Regions from separate parts of the Homo sapiens genome. Here regions 1 and 2 are each linked to region 3. The links come from fine-mapping of genetic effects on gene expression. A gene starts in region 3. Each other region holds a variant in brackets. All regions are shown on one strand. Distances are from middle to middle.

Region 1 (8,174 bases), 64 kb after region 3:
GGCCTGGGAAGCTTGGCTGTGTCTGTCTAGTGTCAATTTTGATTCCTCTCTGCTGCCATTCTCCCCCTAGACTGGCACCTCTGCTGGGAGGGGCCGGGTAACCGGCTTCGCCTCTGCAAGACTAGAGAGAAGGCATCCGCCTCAGCACAGGAGACGCGGCCGCCGCAGAAATAAGGGTCTCTGCCCCAACGGAACAAGCGCAGCCCACAGTCCGGAAAAGGGTGTGGCCGGCCGAGGAGTGCGGGGGAGTGTGCGCCGCGGGCACTGCAGCAGCCGCACCACCTCCTCCCGTAGCCCTCCCTCCGTCCAGCAGCCGCCTCTGCCGCGCTGCAGTCTGGCGGCTGGAGGCTTGAAGGTGGCTGCCCGAGGGTCGTCCAGGGGCCGGGGCTGGGTCCTAGCGGGTACCCGGGGATAAAAGCGAGAAAAGAGAGAACCGTATGGCTTTAAGTAGGTAAAAAGTCTCGAGGAGGATGGGAAAGACTAGGGAAACCTTTGAGAGGTAACGGGACCAGGATTTCCAGGAGCAGCAAAGCCGCGAGTGGCACCAAAAGCAAGAGGGACGTTCAAGATGGCTTGGCTAGGAGGGAGAGCTTCGGCTGAGACGGGGTCCCCAGATGTTATTACTGCTGTTGCCCAAGTAGAGGAAGAAGTCCTGATTCTGTGGAAGGATCCAGTCTGGGCATGCGAAAGGGTGGGTGGGGAGAGTGAGCAGTCGGTTCCAAGAGTGGCGCGTCCAGCAGGCAGGCGGCTAGCGGGGAGAGAGGGGAAAGTCTGGGGCCCACTGTCCCAAGGCAGGGAGCTGACTCTAGGCATAAGGAGGAAAAGCCCCAGATGGAAGGGGTGGAAGGGGGCTATGCTGCACAGAGGACCGAGGGTGGTCGCTCACCCAGGCAGGTAGCTCTCGATGACTCATATAGAGAGTTTTCGCAGTGAGCTGCTCCTCGTCGTCCAGTAGCTGCCTCGCTGCTCGAAGGCTCCGTTCTTTCTCGTCGCGGACCCGGCGCCAGCCCAGGTAGAGGGCGAGGCCGAAGAGCACGAAACCCACGCTGAGTCCCACTGCCCCGGCCAAATACACAGGTATCAGCACCAGCAACCGCCTCCCGAATGAAGTCAGCACCGCCAGGGCCTCACCCGCCGCGCCAGGGCCAGCAGGTTGGCCCCCAGAACCTGGGTCTGGCTTTGCGTGAGCAGCGGGGGGCTGGTCAGTGGGGTCGGAGGGAGCAGAGGGCTGGTCCATGGGGCTGGGGCTGGGGCCCTCTCCTGGAGATCGCTCCATTGTGCCACCTCTGGGAGGATCCGCCCGACCCAGGGACTGGCTGGAGGTTGCCTAGTCTTGCGATCAGCTCCCCCAGGCAAAACGTGATCCCCGGGATGGAGGAGGGGACTTCAAGCCACGCCCCTCCTTTCTGGCGATTTGGGTTGGTCCGCGCTGCACAGACCAAGGTGGAGTTAAAAGGTTGAAACTCCACCCCTCTTCCGCGGGGAACGGACCGGGTTTCGGATAGGTAGGGCCTCCCTGATTGGGCCCGAAGGCCAAGATGGGAGGTCTGAGATGGCGGGAAAAGGAAGAAAGGGGCTCAGGGGCGGCATTCGATTGGTAATAAAGAGGAGGAGGCGTGGCGCACCATTTCAGGAGAGGCGGGACCAAGAGCTCCCCCACGTGGGATTGGAGTGCCTGTGGTATGACGTCATGCAGAGCTGCACCGCCAATTTCTTGGTTTTGGAGAAAGCCCAAGTTGCGAAGTTGAGGGGTTGTGGAGCTTCAGGATTTCCCTCTACTCATTCGGTTTGGCAGGATTTGGTCTGGGATATATATATATGTTCTTTTGCCGACTTTCTCTAGTTTTCATACTCTAAGCACATTCCTTATCCTTCAACTTTTTCCTGCCTGCCCTTACAAAAGGAAAGGATACGATCGTATTTGGAATGAAAGTGTTTGAAAACTAACCCCGTCTATCCCGTCCCTAATCCCCTACCTTCTTTGTGTGGTGTAACGACTGACCCTGGAGAAAACTGGAGAGTCAGAGAATTACAGAGTTGAGATAATCCAGCCTTCAGGGAAAGGGGGAAAAAAAGCAGAGTGAATAGAAAGTGAGGCTTTATTTCTTTTTGGAAATTTCCAAGAGTTAGTAAGTCATCTCTATCTTAGAGGATGGATGTAAGACTAGTTGGCTCCAAAAGGGAGGGAGGCAGCGCAAATTATTACATTTTCCAATAATTTTCTGACCCTGAAGAACTTCTAGGACACTAAAATGAGGGATCAAGAGTAAGGGAAAGACAATTCCTTTTCACATTTGCCTGAGTTAGAAGGAAGGTTTGCCATACAGTCAGGTGCAGAACTAGTGCAGTCCCACAGTGTACGGTGTAGGTTTAGGAAGGAAAAAGTGCAGGGTACACCGATGACTATTGTTACTAGTTAACTGGCGTTAGAGGTGGAGTGTTGTCCTAGGATCTAGGAACTAGACTAATTGGAAGTTGATGAGGGAAGTGTTGGTCATAAGATGATTACCTTTTAATGCAGTATATATGGGGCATATTATGTAAATCTGTCAGATGCAGCAGAAGAACTGGGGTTGATCACTGGGAAGAAACTAGCCATTTCTTAGAGGAAGTGTCTTACAGGATGAGGCCTGCAGCTGATAAATTTTATCTGGTTCTGCAGGGCATAGATTTCATCAGCCTGTGTTTACCAAAGCTGCTTAAAACCTGTCCCTGCTCAGCCTCTATCACTTAAATTTTTTCACTTCCTTTTCTCTACTTCCCTAGGGCTAGCAGTATCTTGACTGCTTCATTCAGTTTGCAGAACTATTTAAGAAACAATATTCTGTCTCCTATATCCTCCATATTCCCAGAGGTAAGCAGGTAGAAAAGGGAAACAAGGAAATTGGAGGAATTATGAGTGACCTGCTCACCAACTGATAAAGCAGAACTACAGAAGGAACATGGATGAACCTTAGAGAGAAACCTCTCTATAAACTGAAATTTGCCAAGCACTGGAGTAGGCAAGGAGGTTCCTGAGAATGGGGGAATGGAGAGGGTGACCTATGGAGGTTCTTTTCCAAACTTCTCCCTTCCTCACCTCATCCAGATCATCAGAAATTATATAGGGGATAAAACTTCATCCTCAGGAAGTTCTTGTCCCAGCTGGGGCCCAGGAGCCACAGGATCAGCAGCTGCAATGCAGTTACCAACACAAGTAAACAGGGTGGGTCCCCGCCCACTGACAATTCTGCTGCCCA[G/C]GTGCCACCTGGTGGTGATAAGCAGTAAGTGGACAACAGGAAGGGATGCCCATTTGTTAGAGGAAGTGTCTTACAGGATGAGGCCTACAGGAGGAGAGAGAGTAAACTTCCTGGACTTGCAATCTGCATTTATATGTAAACCATAATCACCTCCAAGAGGCAGAGGGTGAGATACGGTACTCTGATCTCAGCTCACAAAGATGGGAAGGGCAACAAGATTTGAGGAAACTCCTTCTGTATTCTTTATTCCTCAAAAGTTACTGCCAAGCCAGTCGCGGTGGCTCATGCCTGTAATCCCAGCACTTTGGAAGGCCGAGGCAGTTGGATCACCTGAGGTCAGGAGTTCAAGACCAGCCTGGCCAACATGGCGAAACCCCGTCTCTACTAAAAATACAAAAATTAGCCGAGCATGGTGGCATGTACCTGTAATCCCAGTTACTCTACTTGGGAGGCTGAGGCAGGAGAATCACTTGAACCCGAGAGGCGGAGGCTGCAGTGGGCCGAGATCACGCCACTACACTCCAGCCTGGGCAACAGAGTGATACTCCGTCTCAAAAAAAAAAAAAAAAAATTACTGCCAAGTAGTGATCGCTTTGTTGGATGGCTATATCATTAGAACTTTCTTTTGTCGTCTGGAGTGAGACTGCCTGAATAGATTCCTGGCCCCATTCCTTACTTGCAGAACCCTGGGCAGGTTACTTTTTAAGCCTGCTTTCTCCTCTGTAAAATGGGTACAATAATATTACCCATTGTGTCAATGAGATGTTGCATGTAAAGTGCCTAGCACAGAGCCTTGGCTTATATTAAGCAGTCAACAAATGCTAGCCGGCTGGGTGCGGTGGCTCAACGCCTGTAATCCCAGCACTTTGGGAGGCCGAGGTGGGCGGATCACGAGGTCAGGATATGGAGACCGTCCTGGCTAACACGGTGAAACCCCGTCTCTACTAAAAATACAAAAAGAAAATTAGCTGGGCACCTATAGTCCCAGCTACTCTGGAGGCTGAGGCAGCAGAATGGCGTAAACCCTGGAGGCAGAGTTTGCAGTGAGCAGAGATCGTGCCACTGCACTGAAGCCTGGGCCACACAGCTAGACTCCGTCTCAAAAAAAAAAAAAAAAAAAAAGTTAGCCATTATTCTAGAAATCCCTTTTTACTTCCTGTGTAGCAAACAGGATCTTCCTCCACTGGGCAGCCCTTCAAATATTTGAAGACTTCTATTTGAAGCTTTCTCTTGCCAGCCTTTTTTTTCTAGCAACACACTGGTTTGTCAATGGCCCTCTTTAAAAATTACATTTAGAACAACACACTACTAAGTGGTTACACTTAGGCAGAACATAGAACTGCTGTATTTGTAATCTATTACCAAGGTTCTACTACCCTTATGGAGCTCCTAGAAAGATGCCTAGAACATAGCAGGCTCTTAATAAATATTTATAAATGGACATCTTGAGGGCTAAGATTCTATTTTTTTGCAGCCAACTGGAAGTCCCAGTTTGTTCTCATGTGAATTATTGCTAATATAAATCTCTAACATTGTTCCTCAAACTAGTTCAAGATCTAAGCAATTTTTTAGTGTGAGAGTGCTCCAGTGTTTTAGTCAATTCAAGTTACAGACACTTTGAATATTATTTAGCTCTTCCTGTGTTACTGTTGATAAATGGGTTTTTTACATGTTTACCCGAGTTGGGTTTTTTCTTTTTACAATAAAACATAGCCCTTGGGCTTATCACTAGAGAACAGAGATTTCTCTAACATAAATGCGCTAACCAACACTAAGTACAAGTGTTCAGTTTGATTCTACCAAATGCTACTATTTTTTTCTCATTATTTTTTAACCAGAGCCATTTGCATGGAAAAAATGCTACGATTAACTGACCCGTAATTTTCCTCTTATCTGTGATGACTTAGCAGGTGAGAGAGAGGAAAGTAGCTCCTGTAATCTGGGAACTGGCCTGACACAGCCAGGCTTCAGAGCTGTTAGGGCTGACCTGGTGCTCACAGGTAGCCAATGAGTTCTCTTGGACACAAACAATCTCACAAAACACCAGCATCAGACAAGGTCACTCAGTGACTGCGATGAAGTGAGACAAAAAACAAAATCACTACACAATTTTGTTTAAGCACAAAACAAGGTCAGTGTGCAAACCACAAAACAGCAAACATCCCCTTTCCCAGCTAGTGAGTGACTTCATCATCGACTGTGCTTAGGTTCACTTGTCTGCCCTTCTTCTAGACAAGCTACCCAATTATCCTGGATTCCCTTAACAGCACCCAATCCAAAAGAACACCCACTTTCTTGAATCTTCCCCAAAATCACTTAACCAAAGTCTAAGTTCTCTAAGTCGTTCCTAACACCCTCATGCTGAGACACACCACGTTATCCCCAATGGTGAGCCCTCCCCCTCACTGCAATGAGCATTAAACCCAACTTGCTCAATTACCAGGTGTATTCTTGGTGGTCTTCAGCTGGAGTAAATACATACAAGACATACAATGTCTAAAATTTCCCAAATCTACCTCTTTGGAGATAACCTGGCAAGGAGGAAATAAAGTCAGTCAGGATTTGACTGAGAATTCATGTTGGTATCTATGGTTACATTCTTCTCTAAATGCTCTTAAACCATCTCTTTTAATAGTCTAGAATTGCCGGGCACGGTGGTTCATGCCTGTAATCCCAGCACTTTGGGAGGCTGAGGCGGGCGGATCACGAGAGATAGAGACCATTCTGGCCAACACGATGAAACCCCGTCTCTACTAAAAATAAAAAAATTAGCCGGGCGTGGTGGCGGGCGCCTGTAGTCTCAGCTACTCGGGAGGCTGACGCAAGAGAATCGCTTGAACCCAGGAGGCGCAGGTTACAGTGAACCGAGATTGCGCCACTGCACTCCGGTCTGGTGACTGGGCAAGACTCCATCTCAAAAAAAAAAAAAAAAATTGTGTCCCAAAAAACATTAAGCTTATCAATGTGTTGTTTCTAAAATCCACAATGTTAGCCCACTTTTAGTCTTTAGGCTTTTTTTTTTAATGACTGGCCTTGACCTAGCCCACCATCTCCAATCCCAGATGTGACCTGAGTGATCAACCAGACAAGAAAGCAAGAGGTAGCAGGAGACATGATGAGGGGGAACACAATCCAGGATCACTCTCTACCCCCAAATCTACTGTCCCATTAGACTAGACACCTGAGTTGTTTTCCCTACATCAGCCGTGAGCTGAGGAGGAACTGAGGTTTGACTATTGGGGCCCCTGGCCTTACTGACTTAAGTAGATTTAAAACTTCTGGTCCTATGTGGAGACAGAGGAAAGGGATGGACCCTGAGGCTTGTGTCCCTAGAAGGACTCTCTTTTCCCAGACCTCCCAAGCCTTGAAGGCTTCAGGAACTGGCCACTGAAGGGGTGGGGTAGGAGGGACATTAACTGCCATCAACTGAGCGGCAACTGCCATCAACTCAATGGCCATCAACTCCACCTGTCCTGCTCTGTTTGAATAAGGATCTGTCAACTATGTAACATCCCATCCGCATTTCAGCAAATACACTCTCCTTACTGCCTGCCCTGCTAAATGACCCTAGGAGCCCTGGTTACTGAGGCAACCTGGGAATAGCACATACAGACAGAGACCAGAAACAGATGGGACTATTTTTAAAACTAGACTGGGTGGCTCCAAAGCTTTTACCCCATAAAGTGCCTTCCCCAAAGCCCCATTTGGTCTTGTTCTGGGTCCCTACCCTTCTTCACTGGCTTCTATCCATCTTACCAAAGCTATGTGAGGCTGGGGTCTTTATCCCATTTTGGCATGAGATCTATTTACTGCTCCCATCTTCCACACAGAATAGCTAAGCAAGTTTTCACTGCCTCCATTTGTTAAAAATAATTGTTCTTTTATTTCTTTGGAAAGTAGTGGGCCCTGCCCTATGGATTTTCAGGTCAAACTAGGGTAATGAATGCTCCCCTAGTCTTTGGGCTGGAGCACTATGGTCCCAGCTTTCCCAGGGCCCAGAAGCAATTCCTGTATTGTCCAACCCAAGCAACTAGGACCCAAATTGTCTGAAGGCTCCTATCAGGCCTTCTCTCCTGACCACCCACTTCCCAATCTTTCCTGGCTTTCCCTCTGGGCAGGGTATTTTTTTCTTCTAAAACCAGTGCTGGAACCTGTGCTGTGCAGAAGAGAGGACAAGACGAGGGATGTTCCCAAATTCCCATAAGAGGACACAGCCCCTCAGTCAGTCCTTCCTCTCTGCTGGCTTCAGTCTGCACTCCTCTGCAAGCCCCCACTGTGAGGCTTGAAGATGGACAAGAGGACCCTCATAAAAGGGAGGTGAGAGAAAACACACCATCCCAACCCCTCCTCAGGACATACTCCTTGTAGTCTCTTGTCCTAGTTCTCAAGGGAGCCCTTCAGACAGGGATGGGGAAGGCTAGGTGAGTGGGCAAGGGCCCCCTGACCCCAGCCCTGCGAGGCTATACCAGGGGAGTGTCCATTAGCCCCATCAGTGTGGCATGGCCGTGATGCGCATGCTCTGGGAAGCGATAGGGTAAGTCACCATGGGAGTGGTGGTGTGGCTCATTGTGATTCCTGCCAAGGGTTGGGCCATCGATACAGCCACAGGGGCCACAGGAGCCACAGATACAGCCACAGGAGCCATGGAGACAGGTGGAGGTGCCATTCCCTGGGCAATTGTTTGAGCCAGGGCAGCTGACAGTGGCGTGATCTCTGGGGTCAAGTGTGGGGGTGGGGGTGGTGGAGCAGCAGGAGGTGCAGCATTAGTTGGGGGAGCAGCTGGAGCTCCAGCAGGGGCCACCAGTTCTTGCTGGGACACTGGACGAGGCTGTAGAGCCTGGCTGCTGAGAGTAGTGTGAGTCTGGGCAATGCCATGGTTAAAAGTGGCAACAGTGCCCACAGTGGGGGCCAGAGTCTGCTCAGTCGCTGGTGCAG
Region 2 (8,174 bases), 27 kb after region 3:
AATTCACATTAAGAGATTGCACATCAGCCGGGCGCGGTGGCTCACACCTGTAATTCCAGCACTTTGGGAGGCTGAGGCAGGTGGATCACGAGATCAAGGAGATCGAGACCATCCTGGCTAACATGGTGAAACCCCGTCTCTACTAAAGAATAAAAAAATACAAAAAATTAGCCCGGCATGCTGGCACACACCTGTAATCCCAGCTACTCGGGAGGCTGAGGCAGGAGAATTGCTTGAACCGGGGAGGCGGAGGTTGCAGTGAGCTGAGATCACGCTACTGTACTCCAGCCTGGGTGACAGAGTGAGACTCAGTCTCAAAAAAATAAAGAGATTGCACATCAAGTTTCTAAGTCCTGAGATCATAGAATAAAGCTAAAGCTCAGAGGCAAATGAATTGATCTGGGATAGCTTCCTAAGAACAGTGACTTTTTAGTGAATTTTGAAGTAAGAAAAGAACTTGAATTGACAAAAGGAACTGGAAGCATTTTCCAAATCAAGGTAATGGCAAGTTCAAAGCTTTGTAGCTGAAGTGAGCTTGGGCCAGGTTAAAGTCATTGCAATAAGAAACCATGTGGGCACTCAGGAGACATAAAGGTCATGGGAATTTGCACGAAGTCGGGTGGGGAGGACAGAGGGAGCACAAGCACAAGATGTAGATTTTGGGAACCTTCTGATTGAGAGGCAGGCTCTTTCAGAAGAAGACAAAGCAGGGGTTGAGGCATTTGCCTTTGGGATCTGCTGAAAATTGGATAACAATACTCAATTGGCACTGGCAGCTGGAGTATCAGAGGCAGCAGCTCCTGGCCGACAGACAAGCCTTCCACATGGAGCAGCTGAAGTATGCGGAGATGAGGGCTCGGCAGCAGCACTTCCAACAGATGCACCAACAGCAGCAGCAGCCACCACCAGCCCTGCCCCCAGGCTCCCAGCCTATCCCCCCAACAGGGGCTGCTGGGCCACCCGCAGTCCATGGCTTGGCTGTGGCTCCAGCCTCTGTAGTCCCTGCTCCTGCTGGCAGTGGGGCCCCTCCAGGAAGTTTGGGCCCTTCTGAACAGATTGGGCAGGCAGGGTCAACTGCAGGGCCACAGCAGCAGCAACCAGCTGGAGCCCCCCAGCCTGGGGCAGTCCCACCAGGGGTTCCCCCCCCTGGACCCCATGGTAAGTGTTATGTTCCAGAACTTTTGTTGGCTAGAGGAATCCAGGTGAATGTCCCAGTTCTCCTCAAAGGGGATACAAGATGAGTGTGGAGATGAGGTTAGCCTCAATTTCTACAGATGGGCCCATCTCTCTTAGGCCCCTAAATCAGCAGGAGTCCTTCCCCAAACTCGAGAGCTTTGGAATTTTATTCACTTACTCTAGTGTCAGAAAAGGGGAAGATAGTGCCAAGGAATGGCTAGATTATCCTTGTTTGTAAAAGTGAGTTATTCTTTGGGAGGCCGAAATGGGTGGATCACGAGGTCAGGAGATTGAGACCATCCTGGCCAACATGTTGAAACCCCGTCTCTAGTAAAAATACAAAAATTAGCTGGGCGTGGTGGTGCGTACATGTAGTACCAGCTACTCGGGAGGCTGAGGCAGGAGATTGCTTAAACCCGGGAGGCGGAGGTTGCAGTGAGCCAAGATCGTGCCACTGCACTCCAGCCTGGTGACAGAGTGAGACTCCGTCTAAAAAAAAAATAGAAAAGGTGAGTTGTTAAGCAAAATTTTATACCTAATTTTCTCCATCTCTCATCTTTATTCTCAGGCCCCTCACCGTTCCCCAACCAACAAACTCCTCCCTCAATGATGCCAGGGGCAGTGCCAGGCAGCGGGCACCCAGGCGTGGCGGGTAATGCTCCTTTGGGTTTGCCTTTTGGCATGCCGCCTCCTCCTCCTCCTCCTGCTCCATCCATCATCCCATTTGGTAGTCTAGCTGACTCCATCAGTATTAACCTCCCCGCTCCTCCTAACCTGCATGGGCATCACCACCATCTCCCGTTCGCCCCGGGCACTCTCCCCCCACCTAACCTGCCTGTGTCCATGGCGAACCCTCTACATCCTAACCTGCCGGCGACCACCACCATGCCATCTTCCTTGCCTCTCGGGCCGGGGCTCGGATCCGCCGCAGCCCAAAGCCCTGCCATTGTGGCAGCTGTTCAGGGCAACCTCCTGCCCAGTGCCAGCCCACTGCCAGGTGAGAAGGGGCCAAGAGGGGAGAAGGGTGAGGGAGAGGGGTCCACCTGGAGGGAGGGTGAGCGGGCAGGTGGGGAAGAGGTCAGGTATTAGAGTTTCCACAATCCTTTTTGAACACTCTGGTAAAATTAGAATACAGGAGGAAGGGCCTCTCTGGCCGTCCTCCACCATTCCCCAGCCTGGCAGCTGCCACCTTTGGGATGATGTTGGGGCCTTTCACTGGTGGGTCATGGAGCAATCCTGTGGCAGAGAGCATCTCAGTTGTAAACTTGAAAAGCAGCTGTTTGCATGATGATTGAGTGGCATCCCTTTGCTTATTCCTATCACGTTCAAATGCCCCATATAGAGAGTCTTTCTATATGTTTTTCTGAGTATGAGGTAGAAAAGAGTGTTGGGAACAGAAGTTGAACATTATGGGTACCTCATTCATCCACCCAGCCACTGCATGCCATGCCCGGTTCTGTCTGTCTGTGGTGGTCTGGGTCTGGAGCCATCTCTCCGGCGTACTCTAACTGATTTATCTTCCTTTTCTCCACAGACCCAGGCACCCCCCTGCCTCCAGACCCCACAGCCCCGAGCCCAGGCACGGTCACCCCTGTGCCACCTCCACAGTGAGGAGCCAGCCAGACATCTCTCCCCCTCACCCCCTGTGGACATCACGGTTCCAGGAACAGCCCTTCCCCCACCACTGGGACCCTCCCCAGCCTGGAGAGTTCATCACTACGTAAGGAAAGCTCCTTCCGCCCCTCCAAAGCCCTCACCATGCCTAACAGAGGCATGCATTTTTATATCAGATTATTCAAGGACTTCTGTTTAAAAGATGTTTATAATGTCTGGGAGAGAGGATAGGATGGGAATGCTGCCCTAAAGGAAGGGCTGGTGAAAGGTGTTTATACAAGGTTCTATTAACCACTTCTAAGGGTACACCTCCCTCCAAACTACTGCATTTTCTATGGATTAAAAAAAAAAAAAAAA[AG/G]TAGATTTTAAAAAGCCACATTGGAGCTCCCTTCTACCCACTAAAAAATAACCAATTTTTACATTTTTTGAGGGGGAGTGAGTTTTAGGAAAGGGGAATTAAGATTCCAGGGAGAGCTCTGGGGATAGAACAGGGCGCAGATTCCATCTCTCCCCAAGCCCCTTTTTAGTGACTAAGTCAAGGCCCCAACTCCCCTCCCCCACCCTACGCTGAGCTTATTCGAGTTCATTCGTACTAATAATCCCTCCTGCGGCTTCCTCATTGTTGCTGTTTTAGGCCACCCCAGCTCAGCCAATGATTCCTTTCCCTCTGAATGTCAGTTTTGTTTTTAAAAGTCACTTGCTTAGTTGATGTCAGCGTATGTGTATTTGGTGGGGAAAACCTAATTTCGGGGATTTCTGTGGTAGGTAATAGGAGAAGAAAGGGCACTGGGGGCTGTTCTCCTTCCTTCCCTGGGCTGTATCCATGGACTCCTGGAAGGCACAGAGAAGGGAGCTATAAGAGGATGTGAAGTTTTAAAACCTGAAATTGTTTTTTAAAGCACTTAAGCACCTCCATATTATGACTTGGTGGGTCACCCCTTAGCTTCCTCCCTCTCCCACCAAGACTATGAGAACTTCAGCTGATAGCTGGGGGCTCCCCAGATGAGGATGCAGGGATTTGGGAGCAGTGGAAGAGGGTGCCCAACCTTGGGTTGGACCAACCCTTGGCTCGCAGCTCAACTCTGCTTCCCGCATTCCTGCTCCACGTGTCCCAGCTTCTCCCCTGTGACGGGAAGGCAGGTGTGACTCCAGGCTCTGCACTGGTTCTTCTTGGTTCCTCCCACCAGGCCCTTTGTTCCTCATGTCCCCATGTTTCTCTCCCTCTGCGTCTTAGCACCTTTCTTCTGTTCAAAGTTTTCTGTAAATTTTCTCTTTTTTTCTTTCTTTCTTTTTTTTTTTTTTATAAATTAATTTGCTTTCAGTTCCATCTTGTGGGTGCATTCTGTGTTCTTACCTGTGGCTGTCAGGCAGGGGGATTGTGATGGGAGCAGCTTTCCTGGAGTCCTTCACAGCGGCGTTTACCTGGGCCGAAAGACACTCTGCAAGCCACACGGCCTACAGACACTGCGCCTCCCCACAAAACACGAACGGCAGCACAACTGTCGAGACTATGTGCTGGTATAGGAGCAGAGGCTCTCACCTGCCCTAAAAGCTGTTTAAGACTTGGAAGGACATTCCCACAACATGGAATTTTGTATCTCTGTCCCTTCAGAAGTAGTGGTTTCACTCCTTCCCTTATTAGAGAGGAGGCAAGCCCCTTACCTACTTTTGTTATAATTGGCCCTTCACCCTGCTGAGGTGACGGACAGGCTTAGGCAGTGCTAATAATGGCCTGGCTTTAGCTCCAATAAACACTCCACAGGCTTCCCCACAAAAGGCCTTATTGGGAGCTTGGGAGGGCGGGGGCCAGATTTAAGGAGCTGGAAGGGTAGGAGAAGACAGCCTGATATGGAATGGAACAGGGATGGCCAGCCTTAGTCCTACTGGGATCTATGGCTTTCCTAATCTCCCAAGAGGTAGCTTGTGTAAGATGGATGAATGGGGCCAGTAGTTTTTAAATGAAGCCCAGATGGCTAGTACAGGGCCTCCCCCAGCTTTCCTCAACCCCTGCACCATTGATTGACCTTGGACTCTGCCTCAGGGCAGAAATCATCACCATCTCACCTTCTTCCCCTTTACCCTGTTCAGGAAAGAAAGAACCGAACCGAGGGCCCAGAGAGCAAGTTTATTTGGTGAATGCTGACGGCAAACATCATCCAAGAGAGACAAGATGGGAAAGTTGCTGAGACAAGAAAGCCTAGGGAAACTTTAGGCTAGATACAAAATTCACACAGGGAAAGGCACGGACTCTGGGGAGACTGGGAAGGTCCTCAGCCATTCAGCACCATGCGGACGAGCTCTGTGGAAAGGAAAGGTGGGATGAGCCAGGGAACAGGGCTGTGGAGGGGTACGCCAAGGGCCAGGGGACTACCAGACTGCAAAGGTAGCATAAGCGGGAACATGCCCACAGCAACCAACCCTGGGGTCAGTTTGCAGAGGAGCCACCTTGAGTCTGACCAGTTCTCCATGCCCCTAGCTCCCCTCCCAGCAGCTGTTAGTCCCCCACCCAAACCTAAGCAGCAAGAACACAGCAGAGGCAGAAAAGTTCTCCACTACACCTACAGCTACTGTCAGCCACTGGCGGGAGGAGAGGACAGAGTTTTGGGTTAGGGTACCTCCAAGCTGCCCAGCGAGGGAAGGGGAAAGGACTGTTCAGCTATAGCAGCAGAATGGGGCAGGCAACCCATACCCCTCTATGCCAGCTACCCATGCTCCAGGGCCAGAAGGTCACCCTAAAGCAAGACTGGTATACAGGCTGGTGAGAGTTCCCAGACACCAGCACCCAGGGCCGCATAAGTAAAACCTCAGGGCCCATTCTAGAGGTAAGGAGGTACTGTACCCCCAGGTTGTCTTCCTCTTTGAGGAATCCCTCCCCTCCCTAGTCAGCTCCATGCAGAAACATGCCAGGAGGAAGTCAGATGGTAGTAGGGTAAGGGCAGGGGATAAAGAGCACAGGTTGGGGAAAAAAGAAACACTGGGGAGATCAACTAGAGGAGAGGCTGGGAGGAGCCGTACCCGCCCCATGGGCCCGTCACCCCGACAGGATATGCCTCACAAACGCTGCAGGAAGGAAGAGACATTCATGGTGAAGACAAGACAAAGACATGGGGTGAGGGGTCAGGCAGTGGGGACAGACATTCCATTATTTCACTTCTCATTCCTTCCCACCCTCTACAATACTACCCCCTTCCTTTCCTGTTATACCGCCCTGACCTCCCACTCCTGGGCTGGGCTGGGCAGGGCCCTGCACCTTGCCTCCTGGCTCTTTTTGGAGCCCAAGTCCAGGGATAGGGAAAGCCCCAGACACTATACTTGACCTGCCCCATATGGCTGCTTTCTCTGAGAAAGCGCAGTTCACCTCTTACCTTCATAGTTGATACAACCATTGCTGTCCTCATGCCCTGCCACCAGCATCTCTACTTCTTCCTCTGTCATCTTCTCACCTGCAGGGGGAAAGAAAGCATTTTTGGAATTGGGTGACAAGTGAGGTACCTCAGGGTGCCATCTCAGCTCAAGGACAAGGACACAGAACCTTACCCAGTGTGACAAGAACATGCCGGATTTCAGCACCCATGACGGTGCCATTTCCTTCCTTGTCAAACACCCGAAGTCCTTCGACATAATCCTCATAGGTGCCCTGGTCCTTGTTCTTGGCCACTGTCTGCAGCATGGGCAGAAAGTGCTCAAAGTCCAGCACCTTCACATTCATCTCTGCCATAAAGGAGGTGGAAGTGTCAGGCCAGAGAAGTAACACAAGTTCTCAGGACAGGGGATTATAGAGACCTCAACTGAACAGAGAGATGACAGATGACTCCCCACTAAAAGCAAGGAAATCCATGGGATTTGCTAATCCAGACTTGCTTGAGTTTGGGGCCTATGAAGATAAAGGGAAGCTCTTAGCTGAAGAACTGTGGGCCCATGACCACACTGAGGAGTTGTTCTTTAGGCCCCTCACCATCACTCTTGGGGTTCCCCAGGACCTTGAGCACCTCGGCGTTGGTAGGGTTCTGGCCCAGGGCCCTCATCACATCCCCACACTGGCTGTACAGGATCTTGCCATCACCTGTTCGGTCAAACAGCTGGAAGGCCTCCTTGAACTCTGAGGATTCAGATGAATGTCAACACAGGATTTGAGGGTTAATCCAAACCCTACCTCAGAGCTCTGCTGCCCATTCAACTTTGATCATGCTGAGGAAACGAGATATCTGCACCAAACTGTACACCAAAGTCTACTTAAGAGGGCTCTATTTCTCTTCCTCCCAACTCAAGTGTTCTATATAGAGGCTTCCTCCCCTTCTGGCAGCCTGGTAACATCCATTTACACAACCCCTCTGCCTGCGGCAGGCCTGCCAATCTCCACTGCTGCTACTACACTTCTCAGGGCAGGAATTCGCCACCGCCCAGTCTCAGTCCTGTCCTTATAAGGAAGTGGGAGCAGCAGCCTGGGACTAGGGTCATCCCAACCTGCCACTTCGCACCCCTCCAGTATAAAGAGAACTTCCAGAGGGTATAGCTACAGTCATATCCTTAGCAAACTCCCCTGTCTTGTCCCCATCTGCACAGAATATCAGGTCACTGCTCTACAATCTTCACAACTGCAAGCTGGGAGGGCGGGGACAGTTATCACAAGAGGAGAAAAGAGGCAGAAGTAGCTGATTAAAGGACAAAGGAAAGCAGGCAGCTTTATACACCCTCCCGAGACCCCACACACAGCAGGCATTAAGTGACCAAGTTTTTTCACATACCCACACCACCTAAAACTCACCCAGTGCTTGGGATCAGATCTAGAGTGGAAGGGGAGGGAGGAAGAAAGTGAGAAAAGAAAATGGAGGATCCAGAAGAAGAGAAAATAATCCAGGGGGTAATCTCATGGGGGTGCTAAAGAGATGACAGATTAAGATTAGAGGATAGGTGCTGGGGGGAGGGTGTCCCTCTCCCTAAGGGTGACCTCGGTAGGGATCAGAGATAACCTACCTGCGGTCTGGTCTTCGGTGAAGTCACACTGCTCAGAGAAGAGGGAAGTGGTCAGCATCTGAACGCCAATCCCCCGAGTTTCTATCCCAGCCCCACAAACTCTGACCCACAAACTCTGACCCACAAACTCCTGTTTCAGGCTGCAGACTCGCTTCCCCGCAGGGCCCCAGTCTTTCCAACCCCACCTCCAACCTTTCGGGTCCTCAGATTCCCTTTGCCTCCTACCCCTGCCTTCTCCTCGCCCCCCACCCGTCTCTTCCTGCCTCTCGTCCCCAATCCTGCCCGTCTCCCAAGACCTGGGCCCCACCATCTTGACTGCTCAGCTCTCCGGGACCTTTTCCTGCAGTAATGGCTCCGACTCTCGGCCCAACCCTAGTCTTAGTACGTCCCGATGACGTCACCCTCAGAGG
Region 3 (8,174 bases):
TCTCACCCACAAAAGTTACAAGAGAAGCATTTGAGAGTAAAAGGGATGAACTTCAAGTAGCAAACTACCTCTGCCATATTTCCCTTCTTGGTCCAGATCCTCCATTTTGTAAACCATGGAGCCTTCTTCCCTTCACAACATAGTTGTTGGTTGCCCTCTGCTGGTCAATTCTGGTCTTGGCTCTCCAGATATTTAAATATGAGAACCTGTGCAAATTGGGATTTGGTAGGAAGGAGAATCATGAGCCTATGAGATTTTATAAATTCATTCAACACATAGTTGATCACATCTATAAGGCCTTGTAGAGAAGATACAAATAAATAAAATACACAGCCCTAACTCTCAAGAAGCTTATATACCAGTCTAAAGATTAAAACATGTACACATAACTACTGTAAAAAACACCCATTTATGCAAAAAAATTTTAAAAACTGACTCCTTATCTGTGTTTAATGTGTTTATATGCCACAGGGGAAGAAAGACTTCACATAATAAGTTGAGAGCATAGGATGTGGTAGGCAACAAGTGGTCAGAGAAAACTCCACAGGAGAACCAACATTTAGGTGGAGAATGAGTAGAAAGTGTGGAAGAGAAAGATTATTCCAGGCAGAGAACACCATGAGCAAGGCTAAATAACTACCAGGAAGAACTAAAAGAATGCCAGTGGACAGAATGTAGTGAATATGGAAGAGTGGTGAGAGAAAAGGGGTCATATCCTGCAACACAGAAAGCAGCCATAGAAGGGTTTAAGGTCCCGGACTGCAGTGTGGATGCTTTAGTGCAGTTTTCTATATATTACCTCGTATGGTGCTCACAAATACCACTACCTTCCAAATGAAGGCTCTAGCTCAGCCTGCACTCACCCCTGAGAAAAGTGAGCATATTTGAGACATATTTAGAAGGTAAAATAAATGGAACCTGTTTCTATTTTATTTTAATTTTATTTTATTTGAGACAGAGTCTTGCTGCATCGCCCAAGCTGGAGTGCAGTGGCACGATCTTGGCTCACTGCAACCTCTGCCTCTTGGGTTCAAGTGATTTCTCCTACCTCAGCTTCCCAAGTAGCTGGGATTACAGGCGCCCGCCAACCACACCCAGCTAATTTTTGCATTTTTAGTAGAGATGGGATTTCACTACATTGGCCAGGCTGGTCTTGAACTCCTGACCTCGTGATCCGCCTGCCTCAGCCTCCCAAAGTGCTGGGATTACAGGCGTGAGCCACCACACCCACCCCTGTTTTTATTTTATTTTTATGTTAGCATATCAAGGGAGAAGTCCTTGCATGCAATTTAGTGAATGGTGGTGGTGGTAGACTGACAGGCAGCTGGAGTGATCAAGAGCATCAAAGAGGAGGGGCCTAAAGAATTTTGGAAAGTGTTAATGGTGAGGGACAGGGAGGCAATGTGAGGGTCATGCTGGAAATAACAGCCTGAGCAGTGGTATGAAGGTGGGAAACTCTAAGGTATAAATGTGTAGAAAGCTCTATGTATTACCCTAGAGCCCCCTGCCCTTTGGGATTCCTTTTGGACAAAAGGCTGTGCAAGAAATACAAAAAGAACATCCTTGGCCAGGCACAGTGGCTCACACCTGTAATCCCACCACTTTGGGAGGCTGAGGCAGGCGGATTGCTTGAGTCCAGGAGTTTGAGACCAGTCTGGGCAACATGGCGAAATCCCAGAACGCCGTCTCTACTAAAAATACAAAAAGTTAGCTGGGCGTGGTGGTGCATGCCTGTAGTCCCAGCTACTGAGGAGGGAGGATTGCTTGGGCCTGGGAGTTTGAGGTTGCAGTGAACTGAGATCGCACCAATGCACTCCAGCCTGGGCGACAGAGCGGGACCCTGTCACAAAAACAACCCCCCAAAACAAACAACAAAATCCTCAACAAGCAGCCTAGATCCTCCCCACAATCAGAAATTAGGGGATAGGAAAAATGGGGTGAGATGAGTATAGGAGGGTTAAAGGTTAAAGATGAGATTAATTTCCTTGCTTGGTTAATACACATAGATAATTTAAAACAGTATCTGGCACATAATAAGCACTCAATAAAAAGTGAGAATTATCTTCCCATACCTTGGCTCTAACTGGATCTGCAATGATGTTTCAATAGACTACTCCCTTCTAGCCCTGTACACCTCAAGGAAATCCAGATGAGAGAATCCTGTTTCCTGGGTCTTCGGTGTAATCAGACCTACAAGGTGTGACTTCTGGTCATGAAATTTAGAGGAAACTCTAAGTTTGACTAATATTGCAAAACAGCCACTCACATTCCCAAAATGTAACCCTTCAACCAAATCCTTCCCTATGCCCTCAAAAGAATGAGACATGTGCCAAAGCTCTCCCAGGAAGCCTGAAGTTACAAAATTCTGAAAATGCCTCACAGTCTAGCAGCCAATACAGTCGTGCATAATTAAACTTCCCAAGATCACTCCCATCCTCCCAAATCCAGGGGTTAAGACCTTTTGGCGGCTTCCCTTTTGGAGAGAGAAAGTGCACGAAAGAAACGTGTGAGAACTGGGGTTACCTTTATGTGCTGTGAAAGGGGTTAAAAAAGTCGACGCCTGTAATCCCAGCATTTTGGGAGGCCGAGGCGGGCAGATAACCTGAGGTCAGGAGTTTGAGACCAGCCTGGCCAATATGGTGAACCTGTCTCTACTAAAAATACAAAAATTAGCCAGGTATGGTGACGCATGCCTGTGGTCCCAGCTACTCGGGAAGCTAAGGCAGGAGAATTGCTTGAACCCGGGAAGCGGAGGTTGCGGTGAGCCGAGATCGCGCCACTGCACTCCAGCCTGAGCAACAGAGCGAGACTCCCTTTTAATAATAAGAAGAAGAAAGAAAAAAAAAAAAAACCCGTCACGAACAGGATTCGAACCTGTGCGGGGAAACCCCATTGGATTTCGAGTCCAACGCCTTAACCACTCGGCCACCGTGACTTCCAAAACCGCGCTTTATCGCGCGCTTACAGAAGGGGTCCGCACTGCAATCCGGGAATGCGTGCGGGAACCGGAAGCAGGGTACCGGCCCCGACACACACACACCTGAGGACTCCCCACCCCTCGGTTCCTTACCTCCTATCTACGCCACCCAAAGAAAAAGAGTCGGATGGACTGGGTGACCCAGGGAGGGAGGGTCTCCTGCCTAGCGAAGAGTCGGGGTCTCGAGTAGGAGCTCACACCTACTTAGGAGGCGACAGCGAGGCCTGCGGAGGAAGCAGTTGAGGGAAGGCACTGGGCCGCCAGGGTGGCGACTAGGGGACATTTGGGTTAACAAGTGAGGGGAGTGCTGGGTGGACAAGGCGCGAGGAGTGAGGGAGACTCTGAAAAGTTTAAATGGGGAGCTGCTGTGAATGGATGGAAGGAAGGAACTTCTTGGGGAAAGGGGTTTGGGGTTTTGGGGGACGAGGGGCTTCGTCGGGTTAGGAATGCGCAAGGTGAGGACCACTCGGGTCTACGGGTTGGGGCTGCTCCAGCGACTGGCGGCCGCCTGGAGTGGGATAGCGAGGTGACACTCCCGAGCTGAGGCAAAAAGAGGGAAAGGGCTTCGCGTCTGGTAAGAGCGATCTCAGGAGAATGGCGCCCCCTCCAGGAAGCGTCCTTCTCCCCGGAGGCTCCCGCCTCCGCTGCCGGGGAGGCCGCCAGGGTCGGCCCGCGCCTGGAGCTCCGCCGCCGCGCCCGGCCTGCCGGCAGGGGGCGCAGCGCGGACCGGGGCCGGCCCAGGCGGCGGGAGGCGGCGGCCGCGGCGGCGGGAGGCGGCGGGAGGCGGGCGGAGGAGGAGGCGGAGGAGGCGGGAGCTGAGCTGAGTGGGGCGGGCGGCGGCGGGGCCCGAGCCGGAGAAGATGGCGGTGCGGAAGAAGGACGGCGGCCCCAACGTGAAGTACTACGAGGCCGCGGACACCGTGACCCAGTTCGACAACGTGCGGCTGTGGCTCGGCAAGAACTACAAGAAGGTACGCGGGCCGGGCCGGGCCGCGCGGGGACCGGGGGCGGGACAAAGGGACCGCGGCCCTGCAGCCCCGGGATCCTGCCTACCCTCCAGGCGCCCCAGCCCCTCCCCCGCGGCCTCCCAAGCAGCCCCCCGCGCGCCCTCCTGCGCTCCCGCGCCCCTCCCCCAGCCTCCCTCTCCCCGCACCCCCAGCCTCTGAGCCCAGCCCCCGCCCCCACTGCTGCGCCCTCTGCCCCTTGTTTTTCTCTACTGCCCGGCGGGCCCCGGTGCCATTAGCCCACCTTCCCCTCAGCCATCGCCCTCCTGGCTTTTCTGGGAGAGGCGGCCGGCCGGGTGTGGACCGGGTGCCCAATGGGCTCCCCCGCAACCCGGAGCGTGCCCGCCAGAGCTCCCCACGGAGCCAGGTACCAGCGGGGCTGAGGCCTCTCCGGTGCTTTGTGTATGTTCAGAGAGAGAGAATGGAAAGCAGGAGGGTAAACAGTCACAGAGCAAGCCGTTGGCTGCTCATCAGCCTGAAAAAGGTCTCCACCCAGGGATCACCTGTCTCCGCCGCTCATCCCCCACCTTCATCTAAGGGGCAACAGAATCTCTCAGGGAGCCGGGGTATAGGAGTTCCTGGGTAGCGGCCCCTTCCGAAACCTTTCCTCGATTTTACAATGAAGTCACCTTGCAACCTAGCTTTGCAGTACCCTGGGTTTGGGGTCGAGAGGTTAGGGTGAGCTTCCTATCTCTAGCCCCTCACACCCAAACCCCATAACTGGAGATCATAAGGTGGTGAACAAAAGGTTCAAGAATCCTTACCTGTCTTTTCTACCAAACCTCTTCCTGGTGTCGTCTTTGTCTCTAGGCCTGGTTTTCTCTGGAAATGGTCTGCCTCTCTTTTTCTCACTACCCTCAGAGAGGGATTCTCTTTATGGCTTTCTTTCAGCTCCCCAGTTCTTCCTGCCGGCTTTGCAGCTCGTCAGAAGTGTGCTTAGTGGCTTAGGAGAACTTCCTACTGATGCTGGTTGTGAGCCTGGCCCTGCCCTTGGGGTCTCTCTGGGTGTGAGAATCCTGACAAATAGCTGCTATTTCTATGGCATGTCTCTACGCCTGTGAGAGGCTCTTATTCCCAGGCTTCTACCTTTGACCTTTTGCAGGGAGATCAGGCTAGGGGCTTAGCCTCCGGCCTTGGGGGAATTGACAGTTGTGACCTGGTTCAGCTTCCATGCTCTTAGCTCTTTGTCATTTACCTTTCCCTTCACAGATCTATCTCTTTTCACCTCTCACTGAGAGGCACTGTCTTCTTTGTGATGAGTGGGGAGAAAACGGGTCAAAAAGTAAAAAGAAAGTCTCCTGGCTCAGGTTCAAATTAGAATGGAAGGCTAGGATGCTACTAGGTAGCAGAGTGTGGAAACATAGAAGTAGGGCCAGGGTTACTTGTCTCAGATACAGTTTCCTCGGACAGGGTAGATGTTGTCTTGCTCTTCTCCATCAGGCTGGGTAGTGGATGGCCCTTCCTGTCTAGGAGGGCCTATGAAGACATTTATACCCAGTCTTCAGAAGCAAAATGCACAAGCTCACTCAGTCAACTTGCCCTCCTTCACTTCCTTGTACCTTTTCTTGTTAGGCTACATTATAGGGGGAATCATGGCTTTACAGAGTTCCCCTAAGAAATGTCTCTCTTAGAGCCCCAGAGGTATTGCTTCCATGACCTGAACTTTATAAACCTCCAGAATTTTACAACCCTCAGTGCTGTTGGTTAAAGATGAGGTGCCAAGATAATAGGGTCCTGCAACTCCAATTTCAGAGTATAACTGAGGAAGAGTAGTAAGCTTCCCTGTTCCCCCCAACACTGGCCACCTGGGCTGGTGGCAGCAGAATTTCAGCTTCCTGGTTGGGGTGTCCAGGGCCTCCCTTTTGCCATTTTCTTTATAGAGACTAAATGGGGAGAAGGGCACTATTTTCTTTGCTCCACATGCTTCCAGAGCCCCTGGGGGAGAAATATGGGAGATAGTGGACAATTTATCTGAGATCTATTTTTCTTTCCTTTCCCTCTTTTTCCTTAGTATATACAAGCTGAACCACCCACCAACAAGTCCCTGTCTAGCCTGGTTGTACAGTTGCTACAATTTCAGGAAGAAGTTTTTGGCAAACATGTCAGCAATGCACCGCTCACTAAACTGCCGGTGAGTGCAGAAGTAGCAGGGAGGGTGGGGGGTGGTGGTGGTGAATCCTTCAAACTGAAGAGTTGTATTTTAAAAAAAGATTTGTGAATTTTGTAATTTTTGAAATTTGGGTTATTTTCCACCATCCCTATCCCTGATCAGGGCATTATTGGCTTGGCCTAGTCTCCAGTTTACCATTCTTTTTGTCTTAGTAATATTTTGTGCAACAAATTATTTCAGAGTACCTGGGATCAGTCCACAGGTCTCTCATGGCATGGTTAAAAGGGGACTTGAGATTTGGATTTGTGCAGGCTTGTGTTCAAATCCTGGCTTTGCCATTGGATGGCTCTGTGATCTTGGGCAACATTCATGAGTCTTGGTTCCTTCATCTCTAGATGGGATTAGTAAACCTACCTTGTAGAGTTTCCTTAATGGTACCTGAGGTAATCCAGTAAAGTGTTAGCACAAGGTGGTGCTTTCTGTGTGTTGGTTTCTTTCACTCCCCTCTTCCAGGCCACATGATGCAATGGCACAAGGGTTAAAGAATTTCAGCTTTGAGGCCGGGCGTGGTGGCTCACGCCTGTAATCTCAGCACTTTGGGAGGCCGAGGCGGGCAGATCACCTGAGGTCTGGAGTTGGAGACCAGCCTGACCAACATGGAGAAACCCCGTCTCTACTAAAAATACAAAATTAGCCGGGTGTGGTGGCTCATGCCTGTAATGCCAGCTACTCAGGAGGCTGAGACAGGAGAATTGCTTGAACCTGGGAGGCAGAGGTTGCAGTGAGCCAAGATCGCGCCATTGCACTCCAGCCTGGGCAACAAGAGTGAAACTCCATCTCAAAAAAAAAAAAAAAAAAGGGAGATCAATTCAGCATGGGATTTTGTGAAAGGATTATTAGATTATTAAGTGATGAGAGAATTTACAGTGGAACCTTGACATGCTTTTTCCGTATCTTGATTTTGTAGATCAAATGTTTCCTAGATTTCAAAGCGGGAGGCTCCTTGTGCCACATTCTTGCAGCTGCCTACAAATTCAAGAGTGACCAGGGATGGTGAGATGATTCTCTCTATTCTTCTTATATTTAGTTTAGAGGAAATCCCCCTTTTTGATTCCCTGGGATCTTTCTGGGGTAGAAATTCTTGTGAGTCTCTTTATTTTGCTGGGTCAGTAGACCTGACTTACTACGTCAGGAAGATGGTTGGGAGTCAGAGCCAAAACAGTCTCCAAGAGTGAGTGTGTGAGTATCACTGTGTGTTTTGTAGAGGAAAAGGGATTCTTAGGTTGGCATCTCAAACCTTTTTTTGTCCCTTTGAAGTAAGCACAGAGAGTGATTCATGGAGTTGAGATCAGTGAACCTCAGATCCCAGGTGATGTTTGGCAATAGCTGTGAGCAAGCTTGCCTCCTAATTTCCCATATTAAGAAGTCATGGCTGGGCGCAGTGGCTCACACCTGTAATCCCAGCACTTTGGGAGGCCGAGGTGGGTGGATCATTTGAGGTCAGGAGTTTGAGACCAGCCTGGCCAACTTGGCAAAACCCCATCTCTACTAAAATACAAAAATTAGCCGGGCATGGTGGCGGGCACCTGTAGTCTCAGCTACTTGGGAGGCTGAGGCAGGAGAATGGCTTGCACATAGGAGGCAGAGGTTGCAGCTGGCCAAGATCGCGCCAGTGCACTCCAGCCTGGGCAACAGAGCGGGACTCCCTCTCAAGAAAAAAAAAAAGGCCGGGTGTGGTGGCTCATGCCTGTAATCCCAGCACTTTGGGAGGCCGAGGCAGGTGGATCACCTGAGGTCAGGAGTTCAAGACCAGTTTGACCAATATGGTGAAACCTCGTCTCTACTTACTAAAAATACAAAAATTAGCCACGTGAGGTGGTGTGTGCCTATAGTCCCAGCTACTGGGGAGGCTGAGACAGGAGAATTGCTTGAACCTGGGAGGCAGAGGTTGCAGTGAGCCGGGATCGCGCCACTGCACTCCAGCCTAGGTGACAGAGCAAGACTCCATCTCAAAAAACAAACAAAAAAGTCACGTGCCCTCACCTCATCTGCAGACCTGAGCTATACCACTCACTAGATTATT

Direction of the effects. Positions count from the first base shown, and alleles are read on the strand shown. Sizes are in standard deviations (SD) of each study's normalised expression. Not every link is listed here.
In carriers of allele AG in region 2, the expression in monocytes of the gene that starts at base 3,816 in region 3 tends to be higher than with G alone (large effect, 1.0 SD a copy in Kim-Hellmuth 2017).

What was found. PIP is the estimated chance that this variant, and not a neighbour inherited with it, causes the effect.
Region 1: its variant is fine-mapped to the expression of SMARCC2 in whole blood (TOPMed, PIP above 0.99).
Region 2: its variant is fine-mapped to the expression of SMARCC2 in monocytes (Kim-Hellmuth 2017, PIP 0.95).

The regions. Positions count from the first base shown.
Region 1 is chr12:56,121,422-56,129,595 of GRCh38, reverse strand. It overlaps ZC3H10 (zinc finger CCCH-type containing 10), which reads right to left. Exons shown (of 3, transcript NM_032786.3): 3 at 2,082-8,174. The coding sequence ends at 7,729. ESYT1 (extended synaptotagmin 1) reads right to left here and starts at 1,329. Exons shown (of 31, transcript NM_015292.3): 1 at 887-1,329. The coding sequence starts at 1,276. RefSeq lists enhancers at 281-340, 521-620, 941-1,190, 996-1,657, 3,097-3,356 and 1 more and a silencer at 1,391-1,460. The variant G/C (reference allele first, on the strand shown) is at 3,240.
Region 2 is chr12:56,158,302-56,166,475 of GRCh38, reverse strand. MYL6 (myosin light chain 6) reads right to left here and starts at 8,117. Exons shown (of 7, transcript NM_021019.5): 1 at 8,072-8,117; 2 at 7,765-7,792; 3 at 6,746-6,889; 4 at 6,328-6,501; 5 at 6,156-6,233; 6 at 5,806-5,850; 7 at 4,897-5,089. The coding sequence starts at 8,074. The coding sequence ends at 5,822. It overlaps SMARCC2 (SWI/SNF related BAF chromatin remodeling complex subunit C2), which reads left to right. Exons shown (of 29, transcript NM_001330288.2): 27 at 777-1,158; 28 at 1,745-2,173; 29 at 2,711-4,117. The coding sequence ends at 2,787. RefSeq lists enhancers at 4,605-5,225, 5,226-5,848, 6,819-6,888, 6,929-6,998 and a silencer at 7,669-7,848. The variant AG/G (reference allele first, on the strand shown) is at 3,148.
Region 3 is chr12:56,185,125-56,193,298 of GRCh38, reverse strand. It overlaps SMARCC2 (SWI/SNF related BAF chromatin remodeling complex subunit C2), which reads left to right and starts at 3,816. Exons shown (of 29, transcript NM_001330288.2): 1 at 3,816-3,948; 2 at 5,993-6,112; 3 at 7,059-7,144. The coding sequence starts at 3,838. It overlaps TRS-CGA4-1 (tRNA-Ser (anticodon CGA) 4-1), which reads right to left and starts at 2,935; the gene lies at 2,854-2,935. It overlaps LOC107984468 (a long non-coding RNA gene), which reads right to left and starts at 2,607. Exons shown (of 2, transcript XR_007063330.1): 1 at 2,073-2,607; 2 at 1-206. RefSeq lists an enhancer at 3,170-3,269 and silencers at 3,510-3,789, 3,860-4,079.